3 separate regions of the Homo sapiens genome follow, and all the other regions are linked to region 1. Evidence: fine-mapped expression QTL. A gene starts in region 1. Each other region holds a variant in brackets. All regions are shown on one strand. Distances are from middle to middle. Region 1 holds the start of SEL1L3 (SEL1L family member 3). Region 2 holds the start of SMIM20 (small integral membrane protein 20). Region 3 overlaps LOC105374536 (a long non-coding RNA gene).

Region 1 (10,336 bases):
GTCTCGATCTCCTGACCTCGTGATCCGCCTGCTTCGGCCTCCCAAAGTGCTGTGATTACAGGCGTAAGACACCGCGCCCAGCCTCTGTGCTGTTAATGTCCTCTTACTTCTTTGTCCTCAGTCTGATTGTCTAACAAGTGCAGCTATCCACTCCGAACATTTCAACTGACAGCTGACATCAATACTGGCCATCCTGAGATTTATCTTTTCATATAAGAAAATATTATACTTTGGAGACCAGAGCTTAGAACGAACAAAATTGTTTTCTGGAAGTGCCATTATCACAGATAGAGAGCTGGGGCAGCCTCAGGCTGGTTCTAGCCAAGTTGGAAGAAGGTAAGAGTTAATGGTGTAAGAAAATAGCAAGAAGGCCCGTTGGGCAGGGAAAGTTCTGCGTGGGGCACAGTACTCAGCACCCGCGACCTCAGTGGAAGCAATTTCATTATCTTTTGCTTTCGAGGCCCTCTCCCTCTCTGAGGAGGCTCTCTGCATCTTGGCCTTTGGTGACCTCAGAATTTTCTGGCAGCCACTGGAACCAGGGATCATCTTTTCAGAAATCTGTTTGGCATCGTTCCGTGACTTATCTTTCAGCCCTCATCACAATTATTCATGCTTTGGCAGTATCCTAGCTACAGACACAGTACTCTTTTTGAGCTGATACTGAAGGTTACTCCGTCCCAGCCTATGGAGACGGAAGGCACCCACTCCTCAGGACCCTGACTCCAGGAAGCATGCTCCCTGTGAGGGCAGGTGCTTAAAGGCATCTATTCAGAAGCTGCTCTCAACCTCCAGCCCTTGTGAACAGGCAAATAGGTGAAGATAACACAAAACAGGAACTGGTCCCCAAATCATAGGCAATTTGGCTTTGGAATGCATTCCAAGGCACATTTGCTGTACACTTGTATGCACATTCATCCAAACTCAAATGCTAAACTCTACCAGCTGCCTCTGGACTACATAAAAACCCCAAACCTTTATCTCTTCATTAACGATGGCAAATATTTTCTGGCTTTACCTTTCTTCCCCACTTTAACATCCTGCTTCTATTCTGTGGCCTGCGCTTCCTGCTTTGTATATTTTAGATTACTTTAGACATGACCTCACATCCTGGCCAATTGCACAGTAGCTGCTAATTGCTAGAGCTCTGCTAATGGCCCGTACATCGATGAAGAATGAGTTACAAGCAGCAAAATCCAGAAGACAATAAGCTAGTGTGGTTTAGAGCTGGGGCTCTGGAGGGAGACAGATTTGGGTTTCAATCTCAGACTGTATGGCCTGGGGCAACTAACTTAACCTCTCTGAGTCTCTGTTATCTCATCTAAATGGAGATTATAGTAGCTCCTACCTCAGAGGGCTGTTGCTAAGATAAATACTGGATAATGCCTATAAACGATTTAGCACAATGTATAGCACAATGTAAGCTATCGTTATTACCATGTAGGCTTTCAAATTATGAAAGACCTTTCCTCCTCTAGAGTCTACATATTCCTGGGATCCTGCCCAGCTATTCTGCTCCATCTCTACCCTGCACCTGCCCAGCCCCATCCCCCTGACCAACCACTTCCTCCAGGTAGCATTCCTTGATTGAGCAAAATGCACACAATTATACATTTGCGTTTTCTCTCTATTGTTTTATGTTTTTCAAGTGTTTCATATGGATATTTACATTTTCCCCAATTCTCACACCAAGCTTCTCCAAGATCAAGAAGCCTTGCCTTCAGTAGTATCTTGGGTAGTGTAGACCCAAGAGCAACATCCCTAGTAAACGGCTAGATCTTCAGAACAAAATGTGGAGACTACCTTTTAAGTCGGCCTTTTGTGTCCTTTGCAAAATGGCTCTCTTGTTTATCAAAGTCTGTCTTGTACAGTAAGCGTATCAGAAGTCCATCTGAAGGAAGCATACAAAGGCAGGAAGCACTGACATTTCCCCCCACCATGAGGTCCCCAAATCCATTCCTTCCCCATCTGCCAAGACATTCATCCATGCTCTAGTTATTTTCCACATCACAGTATTTTCTAAAATTACTCTTTCCGGAGCCCTTCCTCACTCCTTCACTATCTCACTTGAGTCTATCCATGGCATCATTTTTCCCTCTGTTCTCTTAATCCCCCTTGGTGTACACAGAACTTTCACAGGAATACTTGCTCCATCATTATCTGTCTCTGTTTCCAGAGTCCACTTAGGCCCTTAGGCTTTGCTCTCCTGACTCTGACTTCCTGAACTGTCCAGAAGTAGTCCCCCTCCTTGCCAGGTCTTGAGATGTCCACGTGGAACTTTTCGGCCCGGCCCATTTGTATATGAATGTTTCACGCAACACTCTACTACATCACTTCTGCTTCTGTGGGTAGCCAGCAGGGCCCTGTGTACAGGGATCATCTGTTTAAACTGAAATCTTGTCATTTGTTATGGCAGTTTTATTTATGAGCCTGTGTGTTGTAACCTTGTGGCATAAATATTAAATAATAATATCTCTTGGGCAAAAAAATATCATTCATGTTAACTGACAACTTCTTATGAAAATATGAAGTAAGCCCAACCACACAATTTGATATTGGCTAATTCTGAAATATGAGTAAAAGCACGGATTGCTCAACAGGTAGATGCACAGGCAGAATTATAATTTGCATTTTTACACCTTCTTGCTTCAAGAAATGAAACATTCAAGAAGTAAAAAACGTTAAAAGAAACGGGCTGAGTGGCAAATTTCTTCAGAATCAAATTCTAATTTCTGCCAGTATCTCCTAAGCAGTTTTTAGCTTCCAAAAAGAAAGACTCCAAATAATGACAATGCCACATAAGTGAAATGAATTCTGGACAATGACACTGCTCTTTTTTTTTTTTTTTTTGGCATTCTGTGAATTTCCTATTACATCAGTTTCATGATTCAGCATTTTCCATTTCATTTATTTACAGTAATATATGGCGAGATAACCCAAGGTTTCTGCAGGATTGTGGAACATAAGTTACTCTGGGCAGGAAGGGTGTCGCCTTCTGTAAATTTACTATTGTTTAGGAGAACTCAAAACAGAAGCAAGCAAGCCCTCAAAGGAACTGAGAAAATTTCTCCCCACTTTGTTCTGAGGGGTCTCAGCTACTCTGGTATTTAAAATAAATGGGTTTTGAAAAATAGGTTACTGCCCTTTAGTTGATGACTAAAACAGAAGCCAAGAAGTGTGCAAATTGCAAACTGACATGCATGAGCCAAACATATTCTCTGAAATGACAATGTTCAAGACGCAGCTAAAGTCACCACTCTGGCGGTAAGCGTGTTACAGAGAACTAGATTTCTTTCCGGCATCCGCAACTTGGCTGGAGTGACCAAGGAGGAGTTGAAGAGCGCTGGAGATGCGAGGTGCGTTGGCAGAAAACTGTCCGGGCCGGGAGGACCCGGTGGAAACTAAAAGGAGGGTCGACGCGGGTGGCGGGCGCCGAGAGTAAGAGGCGAAGTTGGGCACGGGAAGGAAAGGAGCTGCGAGAAGATTGAGAGGGAAGCCCAGGAGGGGTGGGGGGTTGGGGGGTGCTGGAGACTGCGCGCGGCGGGGCGGGGAGCGAACTCCGGGCGGCGAGGCTCCCGGGTGGAGTCGAGGACAAGAAGGGGTCTCGAGGGTAACCCGACCCGGGTCTAGAGAGAGTCCAGGAGGGAAAGGAATGAGCACGAGCGAGAGAGCAGCTTGGCAAGTCCGGTCCAAGCGCCCCTCTCCACGCCCGGGGTACCTATCCCAGGTGCCGGGAACGCCCGGGGCGCAGCGACGAGGAAGAGAGAAAACTAGCAGCGGCGTCCCCGCCCCGCGTGGCGGGTGTCCCCGGCCGCCCCCACCCGCGTCCCCGGGGCCCCGCGCGGAGGGGAAGACCCGGGCAGGGTCCGGCGCTCACCAGGTAGCAGAGCAGGAGCAGCGCGCAGGCAGAGCGGCCGCCGAGGCCCTGGGGGACGCCGCCACTCGGGACCATGGCTGCGGCCCGGGGGCCGACCGCGAGCGGCGGGGGTTGCTGCTGCTGCTGCCGCGGCCACCCGAGCCCCGCGCCGCGCCGCTGCATGGCGAGGCCGCCCGGATCCGGGCCGGAACAGGTCACCTGGTGCAGGGACCGGCCCCCGCCCGAGGCGCCACCTTCCCGCCCGCCCCCGGCCGGGCCGGCCGCCGCGCGCGGGGCCACCTGCCGCCACCTCCGGACCCGCCGCCGCCGCCACTGCCGCTCCCGCCGTCGCCGCCCCCGCAGCCCCAGCCGAGCGCCGGCTCCTCCCCGCCTCCCCGTCCCCGTCCCCTCCCTCCCCTCTGCCTCCCTGCCCAGCCCTCCTCCCGGCCGCTCCCTCTGGCCCCCGGGCTTCCACCCCTCGGAGCAGCGGGCGCCCACGCAGGTGGGCACCGACCCGGGTCCCGCCCCTTGGCCGCCGCCACCCCCCGCCCGGGTCGCTGGGCCCCGGCGCACCCCCCTTTCCCTTTCTCTCTGCTCCTCCCCCGCCCCCCTTCCGCGCTCCTGCTCTCTGCGATCCCCCTCCTCTCCCTCCGGCTCCCTCTTCCTTCTCCCCTCGCGCTCCCAAACCCCCTCTCTTTTTCACTTTCTCCTTTTCCTCCCTTTCCTCTTTCTCCCTTCCCATCCTCTTCCTCGCTTCCGCATTCTTCCTCTCCCACCCACCCCTTTTGCGGGTCGCACAGACCAGTTCCCGCCCGTGCAATGGGTTTTTGTCTGGTTGCTTTTTTGGCCGGGGCGCCATTCCCGCAGGGCGCAGGGCGAGTGTGCCCCCTGGAGTTGTGCCGCGCAGCTGCCCGGCTCCCAGGCCTTCAGGATGGATTTTGACCCCTGCCAACCTCCACCTGTCCACCTGCGGGGTTGGGACTGCCTCCTTGCTGGCATGTTTGCAGCCGGGCTGCGCCCCACCCTGCCGGCTGGTTCGCGGCACGTTCTGGATGTTTCCCGAGGGTTTTGTGTGGTGCCGCCGCCACCGCCACCACTGCGCTCTTTGTTTTAATTGTCCAGAGTATTGGCACCCAGGACGGGTTTGTATTTGATTTGCATCCCTGTGCTCCGGCTTCCACTTTGGACTGAGAAAAAAATGAATTAATTAGGTCAATACAGTAATACTGGAGCCCCAAATGAAAGGGGTGAGGCCCTGGAAGTGCGCAAACAGCTTTTTAAAAAACCAGGACACATCCTCGGCCTTGGGGACGCAGGTTGAGACTGGCTGCTCTCCGACCCGGGTTCTGCGGCCTGGCGGGGAGGGGCCTCCGGCCGGCGGGACCACCAGCTCGCCGCCGGCCTTGGCTTTCAGGGAAGCGCTTGGCTGTGTCTAGCGGCTCCGACAACTATCTGGGCCCGCAGCTGCTGCTCTGAAACAGTTAATCCACCTTCCAAAGTTCGCAGAAGCTTCCCTTTAGCACTGGTAGATTTGTGCGGATTGGAACTAATAATAGCCTGGGAGCCTGAGAGGCCACAGCCCTTTCCCTGTGCCACGAGCATAGGTCAAGTCACAACAGACGTCGGGGAGAGGCTGGTGGTGAGACGGGGTGCCCGGGATGGTTTGACGGGCGTGGACGCGCCCTCAGCTGCTTCAGTACAGGCCTGGCCACACCAGGCATGGTGGCTCCTCAGCTGTCGTCCACTTTTTTTTAGGTCACCTAAGAGCTGTGGCCTTGTGTGAGTTCCCTGGCCTTATTCCACCGGTTCTCAAACTTCAGAATTACCTGGAGGGATTGTTAAAACACAGATTCCTGGACTTCAGCCCTAGAATTTCTGACTCAGTTGGTCCTGGGAGGGACTTGAGAATGTACCTTTCTAACAAGCTCCTGGGTGATGTTAACGCGCTGGTTCAAACAGCCCTCCTCCATTTCCAGAACTATTGGCTTTTAGGGAACTGGGCTCCTGCTCCTCCCAGCCAGCTGCCACCACATTAAAGCATTTTGGGGGTTTTGACAGATGCTCCCACTATCTCTGTTCCACTTCTGCAGAAACAAAGCACTTAACATTCTTCTGTGTGACGTGGAAAACATTTATTCTATCGAGTGTCCAAGGGAACAAAAGATTTGGTGGCTTTGTCCCAGATCCTGTCTATATCTTTTCCATCAGGTCAAAATACAGACTATGCTTTTAATGTATATGGAAGGAAAATTGTCGGCCAGTTCAGGGGGAAGGGGCTTCAACAGGCATTGCAGCATTTCTAGGGTTGCCACCTGTCTTCCTGGGCCACGCTCCGGAGTTTCTCTCCTCCCACATTGTACACAGATTCTGTTGGTCTTCGGGGAGCTAAATGGTTCCTCGGGGTTGTTTGTAATCAGGATTCATGGAATTGGGAGTTTTCAAGGCCTTGTGAGCTTTGAGGATTTGGGTTTACCTAAGTGTAGGTAAGCAGAGTGCCCCACTGGAGGCTGGACTGTTTCTAACTTGCCATATCCAACTGCTCACTTCTCCCCTACTCACTCATCTCCTATTGTGTTCCTACTGTGGACTGGGCACCACCTGAGGCCCCAGGATTCCAGAGGTAGGCAGGAAGGCTCTGTTTCTGCAAGGAGCACCAGGCATGCAGAAAACCGGCCAGAGTTTGGTCTTCTAAGAGGGATGTGTGAGTTGCTCTCTCATCCTGAGCTAGAGGTGGTGGGATTAACTGCTTCATCCTGTGTTGGAGAGGGGGAGAGAAAAAGTCAAGATTTCTTTTCACGGGGGAGTGGGACGTTTTGATCCAGAAGACAGAATCAGCTCTTACTTTTGCGTCTCTCCAGCAGTTTGTGTCAGTCATTGAAAGGGCGTGGTCTGATTTCAGAAGAAAGCCCTTTATTTAAAAAGAAATATATCTTCCCATTGTCCCATGGAAGGGCTTGAAATCTCACCATTACAATTCATCAGTTTAAATTAAGTTTTAATACTCCACTAAAAGTCGAAGGCCCCAGGGGGAGATTGGCCTCCCTTATTACTGCCTTGGTGTGAGTCAGTTTATCACATGCCCTTGGAAAGGGACCAATTCCACACCTCAACACGGGAAAGGACAAAGGCACAGAGTCCTGAGCTCATCATGGCCCGCCCCTAGGAGGAGACTTCAGAGGCCTGGAGGGAGGGGCTGGAGAAAGGACTGCATCTGCATGCCTAGGTGGCACATCATAGCATTCCAGGTGAGATGTTCTGAGACTCTGAAATTTTTTTTCTTTTTTTTTTCTTTTTGAGACGGAGTCTCACTGTGTTGCCCAGGCTGGAGTGCAGTGGCGTGATCTCAGCTTACTGCAACCTCCACCCCCTGGGTTTAAGCTATTCTCCTGCCTCAAGCCTCTAGAGTAGCTGGGATTACAGGCACCTGCCACCATGCCCAGCTAATTTTTGTATTTTTAGTAGAGATGGGGGTTTCACCATGTTGGCCAGGTTGGTCTTGAACTCCTGACCTCGTGATCCACCCACCTAGGCGTCCCAAAGTGCTGGGATTACAGGCGTGAGCCACCATGCCTGGCCCAAAATGGTTTAAGATCAGTCACGTCTCGGGGACCAATGCACTTGGTCAACTATTACTTTACCAAGCAAAAATAGTTTTTATAAACCAACTGCATATACTATCTTCTGTCAGTATCATTTCATTAAAAAGACAAGGCCTTTTGCCATCAAAAAATTAGGAAGGGCCTAACATCCTAAGAAAAGACTGGTTTGGGTGCCATGGCTCATACTTGTAATCTCAGCACTTTGGGAGGCCAACACGGGTGGATCACTTGAGCCCAGAAGTTTGTGACCAGCTGGGCAACATGGTGAAACCCTGTCTCTACTAAAAATACAAAAATTAGTCAGGTGTGGTGGTGTGTGCCTGCAGTCCCAGCTACTCAGGAAGCTGAGATGGGAGGATCGCTTGAGCTCAGGAGGTCAAGGCTGTACTGAGGTCTAATCACACCACTGCACTCCAGCCTGGGCGACAGAGTGAGACCTTGTCTTAAAAAAAAAAAAAACAAAAAACAAGCTGTTCTTTAATCTGAATATTTTATTTCCGTCTTGTCTTTATATGTTGCATTTTGCTGTGGATCAGTAAAAACTTACCTTTGGAGTGGCCCTGTCCATGTCGGCAGTTGGTAACCACATTTCTATATACTAAGGATGTCTGGGGCAAAGAGATCTGCCCCTGCGGAGACAAATGACCTCCAGATTACAGGAGGTGGGTAGGAAGGCATTCTGCAGGAGTAGAGAGTGTTCCTTCCATCCACTTACCCTCCCACATAAATCTTTGAGGCCGAGGCAAATGCTGCCAGTTTTAGGGAATCTTCCCTCATGGCCTCAGGTCGAAACGCAATGGGTCGGTTCTCTGTGCCCCCAGCAGGCATTGCCTGTAATCCTAAGTGGCCACTGGCTAACTCTGCCTTATATTGGGTATGTTAGTTGGCCTGTTCTCCTCCAGTAGACTATATGCCCCCCGAAAGCAGGGGTTATTTCTTAACCGTTTCTCTGTACCCCCATGCCTTGTACATAGAACATTTCTGACATATTCACTGAATAAAGTTGAATCCAACATCTTCCTTTTTCATTTTTTCCTCTCCATCTTTCTTCCTCCCTCCCTTCCTTCTTTTCTTTTTTTATTCATTGTTGTCTCCCCAGTCTCTTCCTGTTAGAACATGGTTATTTCCACACTCAGGTTTCTCTGTAATTCTGCAGTCTTCTCCTTTCTTCCCCCTCCCTCTTTCCTGTAATTTCAGTTATTCAGAATGAAGATGAATGAACCGTGACATTTGCCTTTTATATCAAAATAAAAGAGAAGAAAGCAGAAATAGAAGAGAGGAAAGCAAAAATAGAAGATTGCTGTCAGGCAACACACTCCCCATCCCAATAGGAAAACCATGGTCTTTCTTTCTGCCAAAGGTGACCTCTGGGATCTAGACAAATCCTGCATGCCATTGTTTTATGGGCAGTATTTCCATTTTTCTTGTGGCCCCCTAGCCATTACATTCCCTAAATCTATTTCCTGTCTCTGTTTCTCCTTGTTTCAAATCCTCCATGTTTAACAGTTACTTCTTGCTTCTTCCTTCCATAGAACATCCCATCAGATACCAGCCTCATCTCCTCATCCTCAGACCCCATCCTTTGAGCCTCAAATCCCTGACTCTGCAGACTCTTTCCCTATGGGCCACAGAGCCCTTGCCTTGGGAAGTTGTGGTAAAGGAGGAAAAGGAAGCATCTGTGTAAACTGAAAGCTTTTCCGTGTATTTTTATGGGATGCTGAAGGTCTTGGAATCACTCGGTTTGTAGCCCAGGCATGCTCCAAAATGAGCTCTATTTCTGGGCCTGTCAGATGAAATGCTGTTGCTCCTGGTTATTTTTGGCTCTTTGCCCTTCTGAATAGGTGCATATTCAGCTCAATTCTTTCCCCCACCCTGAGCTGGGGGAAAAAGCGGGCAGCTTCCCTTAGCCAAGCCCTCCCCTGTGTCAGGAGCGCTTTCCCCCTTAAGCAGCAGCTACTGACATAAGCTCTCTGGACAGCGCACGACTTATTTGTGCAGTGTCCAGGTGGGCAGCAGGGAAATCCATTCTCTGGCTCTCTTGGGCCATTGAGGGAAAGCTTTGTGAGCTGAACATTTCCAGGCAGGTGCAACCAGATGTCCAGGGCCTCCTTATTCATACCCAGGTCTGCATCCTGCCCCACCGCCATAGTTGCAGAAACTTCTGCCATCCTTGGGGGGTATCAGGATAAGAAGCAGGGATTTCAGGCTCAGCGACCACAGAAGTCCCTGTATACTGGGTGTTTGGGGAAGGAAAGTACACAGGATGCAGAAGATCAAGGGCATGTGTCCATAGATGTAAGGACATCTTGGGGTCCAGGTGCCGTGGCTCACGCCTGTAATCCCTGCATTTTGGGAGGCCGAGGCAGGTTGATCATGAGGTCAGGAGTTTGAGACCAGCCTGGCCAGCATGGTGAAACCCCGTATCTACTAAAAATACAAAAAAATTAGCTGGGAATGGTGGTGTGCACCTGTAGTCCCAGCCACTCCGGAGGCTGAGGCAGGAGCATTGCTTGAACCCGGCAGGCGGAGGTTGCAGTGAGCCGAGATCGTGCCACTGCACTCCAGCCTGGGTGACAGAGCGAGACTCCTGGAAAAAAAGAAAAAGAAAAAGAAGAAAAGATGTAAGCACATCTTCAATCTTTGATCTTTGAGTGAGGGTGTTGAGAAGAACATGTGTTTGAAAAATGAATAAAGCAGAGAGAAGTTAGGGGTGAATGTGCATATCCAGTTGGGACAATGAGTAAGAGAAGAGTGAATGGGCACCGAGGGAGAGAATGTCACTATAAATAATTGAAAAGAGAGTGAGTGCACATGAGAGCTTGGGGAAAGGCAGGTTGTGCCTATAAGTCATAGGCATATTTTATAACTGCATTCTGCAGCTCAA
Region 2 (9,286 bases), 51 kb after region 1:
TTGAGATGAAAATATGCACCCTAGGACTGCCGACATATCTGACTTGCATCCTGTCTCCCTACATCCCTGGAGCTCTCTCTCCCTTTACACAAATACGTTCCCCCAAACTCAAACTTCCTTTGCCTTTCCCAAACATTAGCACAGTGATGAAGCCCCAAGTGCTTTCATCCATGCCATGTGTAGGAGGTAATTGTGTTAATTTCTGTATCTATTAGCACTCCTGGTGGCATGCCACTGAAACTGACTCTAACTTAAGTCCAAAGGGACTTTATTGGAAGCATATGGGGTGGCCTGCAGAATATAATGAACGCTCAAGAATCAGACTGCAAGGGGAAACAACCAGGGAAGCTCCAGGATTACAGGCAAGTGGGAGGTATACGATGATCACATCAGAACATTAGCAATGGAAGACAGCTACTCCAACAATGCTGTCCGTCTTTGCGTCACTGTCTTCATCGTCCTTATTTCTGGGAGAAAAAGAACAATTGGACCAAATGATCCAGCTGGATCATCCCCACACCCAGGCAACCAAGCTCCCTGACATCATAAAACATTGTAGATTGGTGGTTAAGAGCAGTATCTGGAACTAGCCAGGCTCGGTTTGAATCCTGGCTCCACCATTTACCAGCCATGTGATCAAGTCATTCTCAGTATGCCCCAGCTTCCCCCTCTGAACATGAGGATACCTATCCATAGGTATTGGTGAGCACAAAGTGAGCAAACCTGTGATACTGACTATAGAGGGCAAGTGTTCTACAAATCTTGATGTTAGCATTGATTAGGAATACACAAGGCCCCTGAAATTGCAGTCTATCCAAAAATGCCAAGATAAGAGGTCATTCTCCAAAAGACATCAGTTTTTATCAAGGCACAGTGGGTGGCCAAAAAACAATTACTATCCTCTACTACATCTTATCCCTCCACCAGACTGTGGACACCATGAGGACAATAGATTCTGCTGTTTTCCTCACCGCTGTGTTCACCAGCACCTGAAAAGCATCTGGCATATTGTGCCTGGCTCAATGAACCATTACTGAATTCACAAATATTGAATGATTCCTTCTGTGTTCCCAATCAACTAGTACAATGTTTTGCATGGGAGTAGGCACACAATAAGTATTTGCTGATTTAATTGATAGGTCAGAGGGAAAAGAAAAACTGGAGGAGTGTGGTTTTCTCAGAAATGGGGAAAACACGGGAATCAAAGAGATGAGCTTGCATTTGGCAGGACTCAGTGGCAAGTAAGTGATAGGTAACTGTTTTCTGGTGTGTTGATGTCAATTACCTATACAAATGATCTAGATGGCCTAATCATTTCTGCTGGTCAACTAACGCCTTTAGATCAGCATCAAGGAGACAAGAGAAACCACGAGTCACTTGGCACATCACCTTGGAGAGGGAGAGGCTCATCTGCCACAATGGACTTGTCCTTGCCTTAGAGGCACTCCCAGTACCTCATCACGATGCTCTGTTCTCCTGGCAACGCTCCTTACTGGCTTGCAGGTGCCCGTGAGCAGGGCTTGGCTGGCCATCCTGCCAAGCTTGCTCATGGAGACAGCAAGATCTCATGGAGGAGCATTTCAGATCAGACATCACAAGAGCTAAGACCTCGGCCAATGCTGTGTGACCTCAGGAGAGTTCTGGTCTCTGGCTGTCAGTGACCAGATCTATAAAATAGAGTAATCCTTGCCTTGCAGCTCAGTAATCCTTGCCTTGCAGCTCCAAGTGGAGTCACATCCTCAGAGATTTTATCTGGAACTCCTTCTGTTGTAAAAGACAGAACCCAACTCAAACTGGCTTCAGAGAAAGGGGGACTCTATTGCTCATGTTACTGAGCAGTCTAGGGGTAGAGCTCTTCTGAGATACAGCTGGCACAAATGCAACACTAGCATCTGATTTCTCCCCACCTCTCAGCCCTCCTTCTGCTGTACTGACTTCCTTTTCAGTTCCTAAATGATGGCCCCCAGTAGCTCGAGTCTCATTCGCTCAAGTTCAAATCCAACTTTCCAGTAGCTGGAATAGACTATGGTTGGCTCAGCTTGGGTCATGTGGCCAGGAGGATGCAACTACATTAGGTGTTCAGGACTGACTCCTAATCAATACTAACCTCAAGACTGAGTCCTGGGTGCCAACCAATCCCTGTGACGAGGAAGCTTGGTCAGGCCCTTATGCTTAACTTTCAGAGCTGGGAAGAAGTAGGATGAGGATGGGGAGTCCTAGGTTATCTCATGGACCAAGAGTGGGAAAAGAGTGGGTCCCAGAAAGATACTTGGGGTACTATTCACAGAAAAAAGGGAAGTGGCCACAGGGCTGATAAAACGACGATGCCCACTACACCTGGGTATTTTCTTTCTTTTTGTTTTTTGTTTCTTTTGAGACGGAGTCTCACTCTGTCACCCAGGCTGGAGTGCAGTGGAGCGATCTCAGCTCACTGCAAGCTCTGCCTCCCAGGTTCCAGCTATTCTCTTGCCTCAGCCTCCCAGGTAGCTGGGACTACAGGCGTGCACCACCACGCCCGGCTAATTTTTTTGTATTTTTAGTAGAGACGGGGTTTCACCATGCTGGCCAGTCTGGTCTCGAACTCCTGACCTCATGATCCACCCACCTCAGCCTCCCAAAGTGCTAGGATTACAGGCGTGAGCCACTGTCCACAGCCCTCACCTGGGTATTTTCTATCGTGTGATATAAAGCTGGTGTCACAGTTCCCTCTGTGCTATGAAGTCTTCTGTCCTCATCCTAACAAGCTCCTGTAAGTGCCCGAGGAGCAGCTGCCACACTGCAGTCATCTGTCTTCCTCCTCTGAATTTCTGTAGCCCGCAGGACCATAACACGTGTCGGCAGCACGCAATGTCGGTCATTAGTTATCTTTTTATGGATATGTTCTATCTCTTCATCTATGCGACAGGATCCTAGAGAGCAGGGGTCACATCTTATTCATCTTTGTGTCCCCTTAGCACTCTGCCTGGTGTTTGGGGCATGGCAGATAGTCCATGAATCTGGGGAGAGATTGAATAACTGATTTACATGCTTCTAGAGCCACAGAGGTAGACAGTAGCTTGATGCAACTACAAGATTACAAAGAAAGAGGAAACCTGTCCTCTCCAAGCTATTTTGAAACGCTTGTAGATCTGTTGTGGCCTAAATAATGCTGCTAGGGTCAAGACAGATATCCTCTTTGCTCCCCAGGCCCAGCTGCTGGCATGATTCCTATTTATAAAGGCATGGAGGCCCAAGGAATCTGTGTCTCAGCTGCCCAGTATCCCTGGGCAGGTCATAGTCAGGCACAGCCCACTTGTAAGGGCAGTGTGGTGCAGAGGGCGGAGGATGGCAACTTGAGGA[G/A]GAGGAAACAGGTATCTGTTCTCGGTGGCCCCCACCCAGACAATACGGAAGCGCCCCGTGGCCCCATGGATGGGACCGGATGCTGGCTCTCTGCCTTGGCCAAGGCATCCCAGCACAGGGAACAGGGAGAGAGGATGGGATGGAGGGAGAGAGGATGGGATGGAGAAAGAGAGTAGCTCGGATGCTGAAACAACGTTCCTCCTAGGCTAGTCTTGGTGCAGAAGCCCCGCAGCTCCGGTTTTAGAATCCCCCAGCAGGCCCTCTCGGGCCAGAGATTTGCCCCTTTGTCTCTGATACGTACAAACCTCCCTCAAGAAGGACGAGTGACTCGTCCAAAGCCGCGCAGCGGAGCCGCGGTTCCCTCTCCTGTAAACTAAGCAGACTGATAAAAGGATTAATTGCGCGAGCGACAGAGAGCATCTGGCGCACGGCGGACAGTCGCTAATTAAGAAATTAACGGGGGATGGACGAGAAAGCTGGCTGGTAAAGAAGGCGATGGTAAAGGAGGTCTGGAGGGTGCTGAGGGAGGAACCGGGCCGAAGGAAGGAAAGTAGACAGAACAGGGCCCGCGGGAATCGAGTGCAGCAAAACAGCTCCAACCTCAATCCAACGCCAGCGCCCGGCCCGCACAGCACGGAATCCCGGGGAAGGCGGAGGGCGGGGTCCGAGGCCCCGCCTGTGACCCCACCCCTTTCCTGGCCCCGCCCCCAGCCTTGAGGCCCCGCCTCTGACTCCACCCCTGTCTCTTTCTCCGCTCCGCCCCTCCTCCTCGTCCCTCCCTCAAGGCCCGGAAGCGAAAGCCTCTCCACCTCTTCCGAGCGGGGTCACGGCCCGGCCGTCGGTAACCTGGTTTCCGAGAGTGCCGGGCGGTCGGCGGGTCAGGGCAGCCCGGGGCCTGACGCCATGTCCCGGAACCTGCGCACCGCGCTCATTTTCGGCGGCTTCATCTCCCTGATCGGCGCCGCCTTCTATCCCATCTACTTCCGGCCCCTAATGAGATTGGAGGAGTACAGTGAGTGATCTCTAACCCCTTGCGGTGACCTGACTCCCCAACACACACACCTCCCCTCTGTGAGCTCCACGTGGTGCCGTGGAAAGAACTTGGCTCGAGGGTTAGGGAGAGCCGGGTTCGAATCCTGCCATGTGCAGCTTTGTGACCGTGGACAAGTTGCTCAACCTCTAGGACTCTCAGTATCCTCATCTGTGAATGTTTGTGGCTACGTCATCTATGCTAAAATGCCGAGCCTCCTGTGAGACTCAGGTGATCATGTATATGAAAGCAGTCCTCACATAAGTCGACGCTAAGTACCAGTTCATATTTACAGTTAAAATTCACTGAATGCCTATTACACGTCAGGTTAGGCATATGTTGGATCGTTTCATTTGCACAAGCTCACCTTGAAGTATATATGTAAAACATGCCCATTTTACAAATGAGGGAACTGAGAGGCTCAGAGGTTTTATAACGTTCCCAAGGTCACACAGCAAGTAAGTGACAAGGCAAATATATCCAACCCCAGGCCTCTGTCCAGAGCCTCCTCCAAGCACCCAGGCTGAGAATGGTGACTGGGGGAGCCAGATGGAACCCTGATCCTTCTGAGTGGAAAGGTGCTTTTACTGCACTTCATTTCCACTCCCCAAGATGTTTTTTGAGTGGGACTGTTTCAAACCCAAACTGTTAACCTGGGGTTTGTAGTGTTTTCTCTTCTTTTTCCTCAAATTGTTTTTCCGATTCTGCTTGTTTCCTTCGTTTTAAGCCGATTGCTCACATGGTAATGGTGAAATCCTGGGAGTAATTTTCCTTCTTAATCATTCCAGTCCTATCATTCTAAAAGCCAAACTCTTCTTCCTTGAGACCTATACCTCAGCAAGGATTAGCACTTTGATACATCTGAAACCATCTGTCAGACAGAAAATATTAGGCATTAGAGGCTCATTTTGTTCACCAGGAAACCCGAATCATCTTGAAGATGGAAGAGGGCCAACCCTGTCCCTTGGGAATATTAACGGACACTGAAAGCTTGGCGAATTGAAGGCGAAAGCTCCGTGTAAATGTTCTGCCCATTACAAATGTTGCAGCAGTCGATTTCTGGAGGCAGAGCGTTTTAAGTGCACACTCAGATTTCCTTGTAGCTTCTTTTCATTAGCCAAGACTGAAATGGCCACTGTGTTCTGCCTTCCAGCTTATCTGCATGCACCATGCGTGGGAGTAAGGTGGGCTGTGTGAAGCCCTGCGGGATCTGTTTCCACCATCCTTCTTCAGCGGACGCCTGCCCCAGCGATTATATTGAGGCCACTAGAACTTGGGACAAAGGGTCTGCTTTGCATCCCATTGGAAAAGTCAGTTCTGAAAACTAGAGCTGTGGTTCTCATCTAGGGGTGATTTTGCCCCGCAGGATATTTGGCTCAATCTGGAGACATTTTTGCTTGTCACAACTTGGGATGGGGCGGGGGGGGGGTCGAGTGTTGCTACTGGTTTCTTGTGGATAGATGCCAGGGATACTGCTAAACTTTTTGCAGTGCATACAAGACAGACCCCCATGACAAAGAATTACCCAGCTTAAAATTCGAGTGGTGCCTTGGTTGAGAAACCCTGCTTGAGATGAAATGGTCAAGATGGGGACTTGTACTGTGTATCCCAGCAACAGTCTTTTAGGGATACTCCAGAATCTGTGGTTGTCTGAATGTCTTGAGACAGACAAATCAGGTGATGTTCATCTGTGGGTGAACATTTAGTGAATGTAACTATAATATCTGCATTTTTAACTAGAAGGCAGGCAGTCTGTGCCTTCCCACTTTTCTGGTTCCTTTTTGTTTTTTTTTCTTTTTTTCCGCTGTCACCCAGGCTGGAGTGCAGTGGCCTGATCTCGGCGCACTGCAGTCTCCATCTCCCAGGTTCAAGCAATTCTCCTGCTTCAGCCTCCTGAGTAGCTGGAATTACAGGTACCTGCCACCATGCCCAGCTAATTTTTGTATATTTTAGTAGAGACAGGGTTTCACCATGTTGGCCAGGCTGGTCTCGAACTCCTGACCTTAGGTGATCCACCCGCCTTGGCCTCCCAAAGTGCTGGGATTATAGGTGTGAGCCACCACGCCTGGCCTCTGGTTCCATTTTGATTAATTTGGCCAACTCTTTTCTGGGGATCGTAACTGATTCTTTTTTCTGAGACAGTCTCCCTCTGTCGCCCAGGCTGGAGTGCAGTGGCATGATCTCGGCTCACCGCAACCTCTGCCTCCCAGGTTCAAGTGATTCTTGTGCCTCAGCCTCCCAAGTAGCTGGGAATCCAGGCATGCACCACCAGTCCTGGCTAATTTTTGTATTTTTAGTAGAGACAGCATTCTGCCATGTTGGCCAGGCTGGTCTTAAACACCTCACCTCAAGCGATCCTCCTGCCTCAGCCTCCCAAAGTGCTAGTGTTACAAACTGACTGCTGTAACATTTGTAATGGGCAGAGCGTTTACACAGCTTTCGCCTTCAGTGCCAGCAACTGATTCTTTTAAACAGGTAAATATTGCTGAACAGGTAATATTTGTGGGAAGTTTACTATATGTTTGGCACTCTTCTAAGCACTTCCTATATATTAACCCATTTAGTGTTGATAACAGCCCTTTGTGGCAGCTGCTATATGATCATCATCCCCATTTTATATGTGGACAAACTGAGGTGTGAAACAGTTAAATTACTTACACAAGGACCTACAGCTGATGAGTCACAGATCTGGGACTTGAATTAATATCCTTAATCCCTAAACCAAGACAGCATACTGCTTGTCTAAGGGGGCAAGAAAAGGCAATGGGGGAGATGAGTGTCTGCATAGCCTACTAGATGAATGACCCTCATCTAAGTTACTTCACTTCTCTGAGCCCTGCCTGTTTCCTCATCTGTAGCAGTGTAGTTCACTGGATTGAATTTACAGGGTTTGGGGTGAATTAAATGGGGTAACAGGTGTGGAAACACCTACTATAGTCTTATATTAGATATTTTATTAAAATGTTTACAAAATAATGAGCCACAAGGGCAGGAATGTGAGACATGGAGATTTTAGCAGGTGGATAGGCCTGGAGCTGGCTGACCTAGCAGTAAACTGGGATGAGGTGTTCATGATCAGGTCATGGAAACCCACTGTGTGGTCGGATCTTCAGCTCATTCCAACACATTCAACTAGCATTTATTTAGCACTCTCTTTTTTAGAAGAAACCTGGATTCTAGCAATCGCTGGGTGCCTGGCACTGTGCTGGGTGTGGACTGCACCTAACCAAACAGCATGGTCAGTCACTTCCTTCCATCATGCTCTTCCTACCCTTGTCCTGTCCACCTCGCTCCACCCATTCCTGGGACTGAGCTGCTTCCATTGTGTCCCACCTACTACCCATTCTCTACCTAGCAGCCACAGTGGTCTTTTCTGGTGACTTTTGGTTGCTGGTTTCTATCTTATTTGCATTTATGGTCAGAGAATGTGGACTATATGATTTTGATTCTCTGACACTGGTCAAGACTTGCTTTGGGGCCTGGTACAGGTCAGTTTTTTTTTTTTGTTTTTTTTTTTTTTGAGACAGAGTCTCGCTCTTTCGCCCAGGCTGGAGTGCAGTGGCGTGATCTCTGCTCACTGCAAGCTCCGCCTCCCGGGTTCACGCCATTCTCCTGCCTCAGCCTCCCAAGTAGCTGGGATTACAGGTGCCCGCCACCACGCCCGGCTAATTTTTTGTATTATCAGTAGAGACGGGGTTTCACCGTGTTAGCCAGGATGGTCTCGACCTCCTGACCTCGTGATCCGCCTGCCTCGGCCTCCCAAAGTGCTGGGATTACAGGCGTGAGCCACCGCGCCTGGCCCAGGTCAGTTTTTGTAAATATTCCCTGTGTGCTTGGAATGGTGGCTGTTCTCTTGTTGGGTACAGAGTTCTGTATCTGTGTATGTTAATTACAGATCAAGCTTCTTAATTCTGTTTGTATTTGGATGTCCTGTGGCCATGTTATTAGGTGCATACAATCTAGAAAATTCTGGATAATTTTTTCTAATTATCATTATATAAGAATTATCTTTATCTCCACTGTTCTTCCCCATCTCTATTTTATCTGATTTTATTGTGCTACCAGATTCCTTTTTTTTTTGAGATGGAGTTTCGCTGTTGATGCCTAGGCTGGAGGCTGGAGTGCAATGGTGTGATCTTAGCTCACTGCAACCTCCGCTTCCCAGGTTCTAGTAATTCTCCTGCCTCAGCCTCCCAAGTAGCTGGGATTACAGGTGCCCACCACCACGCCTGGCTATTTTTTTGTATTTTTTACTAGAGACGGGGTTTCACCATGTTGGCCAGGCTGGTCTCGAACTCTTTGACCTCAGGTGATCTACCTGCCTCAGCCTCCCAAAGTGCTGGGATTACAGGCATGAGCCACTGCTCCCAGCCCAGATTTCTTTTAATATTTTCCTAGCTTATCTGTTTCTCTCCTTATACACGCAGACTTTGTCCTTATGTGAATATCTTTTTTTTTTTTTTTTTTTTTTTTTTGAGACGGAGTCTCGCTCTGTCGCCCAGGCCGGACTGCGGACTGCAGTGGCGCAATCTCGGCTCACTGCAAGCTCCGCTTCCCGGGTTCACGCCATTCTCCTGCCTCAGCCTCCCGAGTAGCTGGGACTACAGGCGCCCGCCACCGCGCCCGGCTAATTTTTTGTATTTTTAGTAGAGACGGGGTTTCACCTTGTTAGCCAGGATGGTCTCGATCTCCTGACCTCATGATCCACCCGCCTCGGCCTCCCAAAGTGCTGGGATTACAGGCGTGAGCCACCGCGCCTGGCCTGTGAATATCTTAAAACCAACATAAACTAGATATTTTAATCCAACCTGATAAGCTCTTTTAACTATTGGATTGGATTAATTTTCATTTATTCTATTTACTGATATATTTGCATTTATTTTTCTCACCTCATTTTGTGTCTTCTTTTTTTTTTCT
Region 3 (10,336 bases), 410 kb before region 1:
CCTCCCCAGGACAGGCTCTTTGCTCCCTCTCACCTGCATATGTCCTCTCTCTCAACCACTTTTCTCTTCCTAATTGTCACGTGGCTCCTGCCCCGAGGCCCCCTTTCCACCCTCTGACATAGTTTCCATTTCATCCACTGCGCCAGCCCTTCGGCTCCCTCCTGGCCCCAAAATGTCCGTTCTTGGGCTGTTTCCTCCTTCACAGCCTCCTCCACAGGCTGTGTTGAAGTCTCCATCCTCCCCACCTGGGGACAGAGGGGTTCTCAGGGCCACAGATGTTTTGGGAAGAGAGATGGGCACCTTCAGAAAATATATTTTAGCCTATCCTTTCTCAAACTTCTCTGTACAGAAGAGGCCCGGGAGGTATCTGTAAAAAATACCAATTTCTGGGCTCCCGCTGTTGAGTCCATTGTCCCGAGGCCCAGGAATGTGCATTTTAAACACAATTGTCTGAAGTGATTCTGATTCAGGTGATACTGCAGTTTGAATTGCTTGAGCCCAGGAGGTTGAGGCTGCAGTGAGGTGTGATTGCACCACTGCATGCCAACCGGGCACTAGAGTGAGACCCTGTTTCGGAAATAAATAAATAAATAACTCACCAAAACCTTTCAACACATACCTACTAGGATGGCTACGAAGGAAGGAAGGAAGGAAGGAAGGAAGGAAGGAAGGAAGGAAGGAAGGAAGGAAGGGAGGAAGGAAGGGAGGGAGGGAGAAAAAGAGGGGCAGAGAGAGACAAAAAAAGAAAAAGAGAGGAAGACAGAAAGGAAGAAAGAAAGAGAGGAAGAGAAGGAAAGAGAGAAATAAAGAAAAAGAGGCCAGGCTTGGTGGCTCATGCCTGTAATCCCAGCACTTTGAGAGGCTGAGATGGGAGGATTGCTTTAACTGGGGAGTTCTAGACCAGCTTTGGCAACATAGCGAGACCCCGTCTCTAAAATAAATAAATAAATAAAATGAAAGAAGGAAGGAAAAGGGAAGAGAGAGGAAAAGAAAGAAGCAAGGAAAAGAGGAAGAAAGGAAGACAGAGAAAAGGACAGAAAGAAAGAGAAAAAAGGAAGAGAAGAAAGAGAAAAAAAGAACAAAGGAAGGAAGAAAGAGAGAGAGAAAGAGAAAGAAGGGAATAAAGGAAGAAAGGAGGACAGAAGAAGAGAAAGAAAATAACAATTGTCAAGGATGTGGAGAAATAGGAACCCTTGTGCCTTGTTGGTGAAATGTAAGTTGGTGCCTCTAATGTGGAGAATAGTAATTGGTTCCTCAAAAAATTAAACATGGAACTACCATATGACCAAGGAAGTCCGTTTCTGGGTATATACCCAAAAGAATGAAAGATAGAGATATCTGTACACCATGTTCATAGCAACATTATTCACAATAACCCAAAGGTGGGAAACAACCCAAATGTCCACGACAGATCAGTGGATAAACAATATACCGTATCTACCTGCAGTGGACTATTATTCAGCTTTAGAAGGAAGGAAATTCTGAAACGTGCCACAACATGAGCGAGCCTTGAAGACATTATGCTAAGTGAAATAAGCCAGTCACAAAAGGACAAATATTATATGATCCTGCTTATGCGAGGTACTTAGAGTAGTGAAACTCACAGAGACAGAAAGTAGAATGGCTGTTGCCAGGGTCTCGGGGATGGGGTGGGATTGAGGAGTTAGTGTTTAATGGAGTTTCAGTTTTTCAAGATGAAAAGAATTCTGGAGATGGATATGGTTGCACAATTTAGTGTACTTAATGCCATTGAACTGTACACTTAAAAATGGTCATGAGGGTAAATTTTGTGTATTTTACCACAATTTCAAAAATTTTACCACAATTTCAAACCTCTCAACAATTCTATGAAGTAGGTACTATTACTATTCCCATTTAACAGATGAGGAAACTGAGGCATAAAGAGGTTAGGAGATGTCCTTAAAAATCACACAGGGCCGGGCACGGTGGCTCACACCTGTAATCCCAGCACTTTGGGAGGCCGAGGCAGGCGGATCACTTGAGGTCAGGAGTTCCAGCATGGCCAACATGGTGAAACCCCATCTCTACTAAAAATGCAAACATTAGCTGGAAGTGGTGGTGGGCGCCTGCAGTCCCAGCTACTTGGGAGGCTGAGGGAGAAGAATTGCTTGAACCTGGGAGGTGGAGGTTGCAGTGAACTGAGATCGTGCCACTGCACTCCAGCTTGGACAACAAAGCGAGACTCTGTCTCCAAAAATAAATAAATAAATAAATAAATAAATAAATAAATAAATAAATAAAAACACTGATAATAAGTGACAGAGCTGGAATGTGAATCTGGGAAGTGTGCATCCCTCAAATGTCCACACGTCCATTCCCACCTCTTCCAGGCTGCGTGCAAATGCCCACCTGTCTTCCCGCCTTTTGTCACCATCCTGCATAAAATAGCTGTCCCCTCTCCCCAAGACATTTCCTATCCCTGTTTGCCTGCTTTATTTTTTATTTATTATTATTATTGTTATTATTATTTTCTGTGACTCTAGCCAAAGATAGTTTTTATTCTTGGCACTCGACTTGTAATATACTTATTCGATTCCATTTTTATCATCTGTCCCCTAGACATAGCTTCATGATGGCAGGGATTTTGACTTTTTGTTTGCCATGATATCCGTGTGTCAGGCTTTACTAGCAGCTGCTCAGTAAATACTTGTCGAATGACTGAACCAAACATGGATTGGGTGGCTTCTATGTGCCAGACACTGGAAATGCTAATATGTAAATGAAGCCCAGTTTTTGACTCCAGGGCTCCTGGTCTGGTGGAGCGATGGAGCAGCAAGGAGCCATGTAATGATCCTGTTTCCACGGGGCACTGGGACAGTAGAAAGCACAGAGGAGGAACACCCAGCCCAGCTTTGCTGGGGCCAGGAAGGATGCCTGGAGGCGAGACAGCCCCTTGAGCTTAGTTCTCAGGAATGAGTTGGGGATGTCCAGGTGAAGAAGAGAAGGAAGGGCTTTCTAGGTAGAGGGAATAGCATATGCAAAGGCTTAGAGGTCTGAAAGGGCACTGGCCTTCAGGAGAACCCAGTCACTAAGTGCAAGGGATGCCAAAGTGTATTGAGAGGAAGCTGGAGTCTCTCTGAATCTGCTGTGATTCTGAAGGCTGCCTGATAAAAAAAAAAAAAAATTTTAAAAAAAGAGGAAACTGAGGCAGATCTTCAAGGGCCTTGTTTGCCTGCTAGAGGACCCCTGAAAGGCCTGGAGAGCTATTTCTTTCATCTCCTATGCCATCATTTCCTGTTTCCTATGTACGAAGGAGGTGCCTCAGTTTATGTGAAACCTATTTCTAGCGTGGTTGCACTCAAATTCCATCAGTGATGTTTAGAGTCATCATAAATACAAACTACCAGGAAAAGGAGGGAGACTGACAGTGATTGAATATCTCCCTTTTGGTGTCTGAAGCTTAGTTTGCATTAACAATGGAATCACTACAACCACCCTGAGCAGTGAGTAGGTGAGTGCAGTTAACATGTGCATTTTACAGGCTGGAGCACTGATGCTCAGAGGAATTACATCATTGCTCAAAATCACACAGATGGTAGAGTCAGGATTTGAACTCAATCCACCTACCCCAGAACCTGGGGGTTCTTGCAGTGAGAAGAATGGACTTCTCTATTCTTGCTTTTCCTGATTCCTCTGAGTACGCCAAGTGGCTTGGATCACTTGATTCTCCTTCCTCTGAAGAGCAGTGACAGCAGAACCTTATCTACGTGTTAGGTGTAGACAATCAGACAACTGCAGTACCAGTTCTTCTTTCCAAAGCCTCTTGGATGATTGTGAACCATGGCTAACACTCTTCTTTGCTTTTGTCAACTGGCCAGGCAGCAAAGAGGACACCTGGGCTTTGCTGATAAACTTAGGAATCTGGCACCTATCCTGCAGCCTGGAGAGAATTTATTTTCTCTTGGGGTGCTTGTGTGCTGCTTCTTTGCCAGGGCTTGGCTAGGGAAAGGCTGCATCATGCTTGTGGCACACAGAGCAAAGCTATGAGGATGTGAGTGGCCCCAGGTCTCAGTGATTTGAAATAAAGGGTGGCAGATGCAAATAAGATTTAGACACAGTGAAAATCTCCGGCTATATAAGGTGGAGACAGAGGACAGGGGTTAGGCATTTAAAACCCAGAAGTAGATGGAAAATTAATACCATCTTAATGCCTGATGGAACTATGTAAATAGTCACTCTCATTGTGTTTGCTGCTGTCAGTGCTTGGTTCTTTCTTGACATTTGTGTATTTTCTCAGATGGAAATACCTAGCCTGCTCTCCAGGAAAGAAGGCAAGGAGGTGCTCTCAGTTTCTGTGTCTGGATGAGTTATTTTTTTTCAGTAAGACTTGGTGCCCTGTGTATGTGTAGAGAGGGATGGAGAGAGGGGGATAGTTGCACATCAATGGCAGACGCAGTTTTGCCTCATCTTGGTGCTCCTGAGGAGGGAGAGATTAGAGCTTTGTGGTTTATTTGGGGGACAAGTTCTTAGTTTGAGGAAGAAAAGGGTATTAAATGACTGTCTTCGTCCATTTTATGAATACTAACAGACTAGATAATTTATAGTGAATAGAAATGTATTCGGCCCATGGTTCTGGAGGCTGGGAAGTCTGAGAGCATGGCATCGGCATCTGACAAGGGCCTTCATGCTGTGTCATCCAGTGGCAGAAGGCAGAAGGGCAAAAGGGAGTAAGAATGAGATCAAGAGAAGGCCGAGCTCACTGTTATAAAAAGTATGCTCTCCCAGTAATGAACTCGCCCTGACAATAATGGCATCAATCCATTCGTGAGGGCAGAGACCTCATGGCCTAATCACCTCTCAACATGGTTGCATTGAGATGTGACACATGAACAAGTTTCCAACACATGAACTTTGGGGGCCATATTCAAACCATAGCAATGACCCTTGATGACCCAGGACCCACCCCTTTTATAATTTTATCACTCTTCCATTCATATCATTCATTCAACAGATATATATTGGCTTTGGTTGCAAAAGTGGAAAGGAAAGCATCCTTTGTATCAATCAGAAAGGAACATGTCAATGGATTTCCCGTAACTGCTGACTTCACTCCCAACATTTCCCATGGTGGCCTCTGGAGTCTCTCCCCAGTTGTTGACCCTCCCTTCAACTCTCCACCTCCCAACCCGAAGGGAAACCAGACTCTAGCTTGAGGACCTCATTTACCCTGCAGCTCTTTTGAGAGGAGGGAGCTTCTTTCTCTGCATTCAACAACCCAGCTTAGAGCAGGTATAATCCCCATGCTCCTCATTGGGATTTTTAGTTCCACTGGGGCTCTGCCCATTTCCACAATACCCTGCCCCCTTGCACTCTTGTTGTCCTTGTCATTTGCTGACCTCCTGGTAATTCCCACATGCATCCATGGGCACCGCAGGCACCTGGCTCACTGTTTTTTTCTCCATTCTGGATGCATTACCCCCCAGGCCCTGCTCCCTCTCTTGGTTGTCACTGCTCAGGCCCTGCTCCCTTTCTTGGTATGCTCTAACATACCTTCTCCTCCTTCCTTAGACCTCCAACACCTCCTTCCTATCCTCACTCTCAGCTCATAATGTAGCCTTCTGTTTCACTGAGAAAATAGACGCCAACAGAAAAGATGCTCCTGCCAGCCTCCTGTCCACACATCTGCACTCTCTGCCTCCCCACCCATGACTTCTCTGCACTCTTTCTTTGGCCAGTCCTGCTTGCCTTCACCCTGCAGGGGCTTCCTCTTTCCTGCATCACCAGTTTCCCTCCCTCTTTTGGCTCATTCCCATCAACATACAAGTGTCCTATAAAACCCCCCACCTTTAAGATATAGAACTGCTTTTGACCCCAGCAGCCTCCAGCTGTGGCTCTATGTCTCTGCTCCTAACACAACTCCTGGAAGCAGCTGTCTCCACTTCTTGTCCTCCAATTCTCTCTTGAATGCACCCTAAGCTATCCTTTGTTCCCATACCACTACCTAGAAAT[G/A]TGTCTTGTCAAGGATCATAGTGGCTCCCTCCTCCATGGCCATATCCAGGGTCTTATCTTAGTCCTCACTGTTCCTTACTCCCTACATGCCATGAGCCACCAAATGCTGTCAATTCTGGCCCTTAAATCTCTTGCCCATCTGTCCCCCTCCTCTCTGTCAACACTGCCCCGCCCTAGTTCAGACCTTGGCCCTTTTCACCTTCCCTGTTATAATAAATGCCCTCTTTACCTGTCTCCCAGCTACAGCTTTTCCCCTCCCCAAATACTCCCTCCCTGCTTCCCTCACAGATGCCAGAATGACCCAATCACCTCCTATCCTTCAAATCCAATGTTTGGGAATTCTAAAGCTCTTCCTTATTTTTTTTGACTCCTCTACTGACTACTCATTTCCTGAAACTTTCTCCCAACTTAGATGTGTCACTTCCTCTCTCAGAATTCTTCAGTGACTCCAGCACCTACAGGACACAGTGAAATCTCTCTTCCTGGAGTACCAGATTCCTCACAATCTAGCTCCGGACCCTGCTAAGCCTCTCCTCCTTACCGCTTTTTCCCCTGAATTTCTCTCCTAGCCCCTGTGGTTCTTCTGAATTTCCATCTCTCTTTGCACACAATGCTTCCTCTGGCTTGGATGCCTTCTCCCTCCCCTGCCTCCACTTCATCTTCCAAGTCTGTTGTCTCATTTTTCTCCCACAAATGTTTATAGCATTCCTTCCTTGTGCTAGACTCTGTCACAGCCCCAGAGTCTGAAGCCTCCTGCACCTCTATTGCAATCTCTCTGCTATCTGGCCCATCTGTTTCCCAGGGATTTTCATATTGCATAATTGTTGGCTTGCATGATTTTTTTTTTAAGAGGCATGGTCTTATTCTGTTGCCCAGGCTGTGGCACGATCATAGCTCATTGAAACCTCAACCTACTGGGCTCAAGTGATCCTTTTACCTGGGCCTCCCAAAATGTTGGAATTACAGGTGCAAGCCATCCCACCTGGCCTTGCTTGTATTCTTTTTCTCTTCTCACTAACCACAGCCTCTCATGTTTTTTGTTTTTTTTTTGTCTTTTTTTTTGTTGTTGTTTGTTTGTTTTTTGTATTTTAGTAGTGATGGGGTTTCACTATGTTGGCCAGGCTGGTCTGGAACTCCTGACCTCGTGATCCGCCCACCTCGGCCTCCCAAAGTGCTGAGATTACAGGTGTGAGCCATTGCACCCTGCCAGCTTTTCATTTTTGTGCCTCCAGAGTCAAGTCTGTGTTTGGCCCATGGTAGGTAATAAGTCAACATTTGTTGAAAGGATCAACGATGAATGAGCTATGCTAGAGGCCCCCAGTAATCGGGACTCTGGTATCTGAGCCACTGCCTCCTAGTTTTCCCATATGGTACATGGCAGGAGTAATATGTTGCCTTTGGGGAGCTTCACTGAGGACTCTAATCAGGATCCCACGTATCAACAAGGATGCTCTTAGAGCATTTTGTCTTTTCTATTAGAATGCCAGTTTTCTGCTTGTATTCTATCAATCCTCACTGAGGGATAGAGCCTGGCCTCCCATGGGGTGAGGGTAGGAGGCGAGCTTGGATTTTTGGATCCATCTGATCAGTTTCCTCCACAAAGATGGGAGACAATGGAGGGGAGAACCCTTTAGGGCAGAGCCCATGCCTGGTCTTCATTTCCCAGGATCTCACTGAATTGGTGGTGCTCAGTGCAGCCTCCAAGAAAGGTTTGCTGAGTGAATGATGAAGCCCTGTTTGCCTGTCACAGGTAATTTAATAGACTGCATGAGGCATATCAAAACAACTGGGAAATAGTTCCTTCTCTCAAAGATTCTACAATCTATTTGGGAAAAAAATGTATTGATTTGAATTTTAAAACTCCATGAAGAATGTTTTCCCCAATGTTATTTATCTATTCATTTATTTTTATTTTTATAGACTTAGTGCAGTTTTGTTACATGAATATATTTCATAGAGGCAAAATCTAGGCTTTTAGTATAACCATCAGCTGAATAGTGTTCATTGTTCCCATTAGGTAATTTCTCATCCCTCACCCCCATCCCACCCTCCCACCTTTTTGAATCTCCAGCGTCTTACTATTTTTCTTTTTTGAGACAAGGTCTGACTCTGGTTATGCAGGGTGGGGTGCAGTCCCACCATCTTGGCTCACTGCAACCTCAGCCTCCTGGGCTCAGGTGATTCTCCCACTTCAGTCTTACAAGTAGCTGGGATTACAGGCTAACGCCACCATACCTGGCTATTATTTTGTATTGTTAGTAGAGATGGGGTTTCACCATATTGTACAGGCTGATGAGTCTCCGACGTCTATGATTCCACTCTCCATATCCATGTGTACTCATTATTTAGCTTACACTTACAAGTTAGAACATGTAATATTTGACTTTCTGAATTATTTTTCTTAAGATAATGCCCTCCAGTTCCACCCATGTTGCTGCAAAAGACAAGATTTTATTCTTTTTTATTCTTTCTGATATATATAGATAGACCACATTTTCTTTATCCAGTTATCTGTTGGCAGACACTTAGGTTGATTCCACATCAACCCACATCACTTTGCTATTGTGAATAGTGTTGTGATAACATATGTATGGAAGTATCTTTTTGTTATAATGATTTCTTTCCCTTTGTGTAGCTACCCAGTAGTGGGACTGCTGGATCAAATGATAGTTCTTTGAGAAATCTCTATACTCATTCCAACAGAGGTTGTACTAATTCACATTCCCACCAACAGTGTATAAGTGTTTCCTTTTCTCAGCATTCTCACCAATGTCTGTTATTTTTGACTTTTTTTTTTTTTTTTTTTTTGAGACAAAGTCTCACTCTTATCACTGGAATGCAATGGCATGGTCTCGGCTAACTGCAACCTCTACCTCCCGGGTTCAAGAGATTCTCCTACCTCAGCCTCCCAAGTAGCTAGGAGTACAGGTGCTTGCCACCATGCCTGGCTAATTTTTTTTTTTTGTATTTTTAGCAGAGATGGGGTTTCACCATGTTGGCCAGGCTGGTCTTGAACTCCTGACCTCATCCGCCCGCCTTGGCCTCCCAAAGTGAGCCACCATGCCCAGCCTATTTTTGACTTTTTAATAGTAGTCATCATGACTGGTGTAAGATGTTTCTCATTGTGGTTTTTTAATTGTCCTAATGTGATTTAGAGTCCAACCAAGAGCAAAGGTGAAATCCTCTTTAGGCGTCAGATTATGATTTCTTTCTTCACCACACAATAAAAAAGAAAGGAGAGAAAGAAACTAAAGTCATCTCCCAGACGACTCTTGGCTCTTAGCTCCTGCTGAAGTTGGAGACCCTCATGGGATATTAGATAGGATGGGAAAAAGGGAAGAGGGAAGGCGTGAAACACAGCTCCCTTTATTTTTCTTCTTATTCAAGTAGTATCTTTTTATCTTTGGAATTTGGAAAGCAGAGATGAGTGTGAAAAAAACTGCCCCAAAACTTATTCAGAGATAATCGCCTTGTATTTTAGTGTAGTTTAATCTTTGTTTCTTAAAAACAAGACAAACTATATGTTTTTTGCTTTGTGTATAGGGATTCTTGTTGTTGTAATTACAAAAGCAACACATGGTCACTGTTGAAAGGGTTGGAAACATCAATAAGAAAAAGAAATGAGAATGAAAATTGCCCTCAGGGTCACCAAATAAACACCAAACAGTGTTGACATTAAAAGGTGTATTTTGTCTTCCTTGTTACTTCCCTCCTTTTTCATTTTCTACATGACACAAAGAAACAAAACTCCACAGATTTTTTTCATATTTTGTACCAAATTAGAAAACACAAATAAATAAAGGAATACAAATGAAAAGGGGAAAAGGCTGGGCATGGTGGCTCACACCTATAATCCCAGCTACTTGGGAGGCCATGGCAGGAGAATTGCTTGAGCCCAGGAGTTTGAGACCAGCCTGGTCAACATAGCGAGACCCCCATCTCTACAAAAAAATTTTAAAATTAGCCAAGCATGGTGGTGCATGCCTGAAATTTAGCTGTAATTATTTATTTAAAAATGCCCTTTTAGCTGGGTGTGGTGGCTCACACATGCAATCCCAGCACTTTGGGAGGCTGTGGCAGAAGGATGGCTTGAGCCCAGGAGTTGAAGACCAGCCTGGGCAACATAGTGAGATCCTGTCTCTAAAAAAAAAAAAAAAAAAAAAAAGAAGAGGCTGGGCACGGTGGCTCACACCTGTAATCCCAGCACTTTGGGAGGCCAAACCAGTTGGACCACCTGAGGTCAGGAGTTTGAGACCAGCCTGGCCAACATGGTGAAATCCCATCACTACTAAAAATACAAAAAAAATTAGCTGGGCAGGGTGGTGCACGCTTATAATCGCAGCTACTGAGGAGGCTGAGGCAGGAG

The links. PIP is the estimated chance that this variant, and not a neighbour inherited with it, causes the effect.
Region 2: its variant is fine-mapped to the expression of SEL1L3 in whole blood (TOPMed, PIP above 0.99).
Region 3: its variant is fine-mapped to the expression of SEL1L3 in putamen (GTEx, PIP 0.95).

What each region holds. Positions count from the first base shown.
Region 1 is chr4:25,858,801-25,869,136 of GRCh38, forward strand. It overlaps SEL1L3 (SEL1L family member 3), which reads right to left and starts at 4,188. Exons shown (of 24, transcript NM_015187.5): 1 at 3,875-4,188. The coding sequence starts at 4,036. LOC102723733 (a long non-coding RNA gene) reads left to right here and starts at 2,327. Exons shown (of 2, transcript XR_427503.5): 1 at 2,327-3,353. It overlaps LOC124900688 (a long non-coding RNA gene), which reads right to left. Exons shown (of 3, transcript XR_007058092.1): 3 at 6,408-6,606. RefSeq lists silencers at 3,187-3,481, 3,752-4,211, 4,262-4,421.
Region 2 is chr4:25,910,072-25,919,357 of GRCh38, forward strand. SMIM20 (small integral membrane protein 20) reads left to right here and starts at 4,149. Exons shown (of 3, transcript NM_001145432.3): 1 at 4,149-4,351. The coding sequence starts at 4,243. It overlaps LOC105374538 (a long non-coding RNA gene), which reads right to left and starts at 4,015. Exons shown (of 3, transcript XR_925502.3): 1 at 3,940-4,015. RefSeq lists enhancers at 3,436-3,985, 4,095-4,194, 4,265-4,394 and a silencer at 3,875-4,054. The variant G/A (reference allele first, on the strand shown) is at 3,340.
Region 3 is chr4:25,450,803-25,461,138 of GRCh38, forward strand. All of the region lies in intron 3 of LOC105374536 (a long non-coding RNA gene), which reads left to right. Among named protein-coding and RNA genes, the nearest start is that of ANAPC4, 79 kb to the left of the region's middle. RefSeq lists enhancers at 1-334, 5,769-6,268. The variant G/A (reference allele first, on the strand shown) is at 5,971.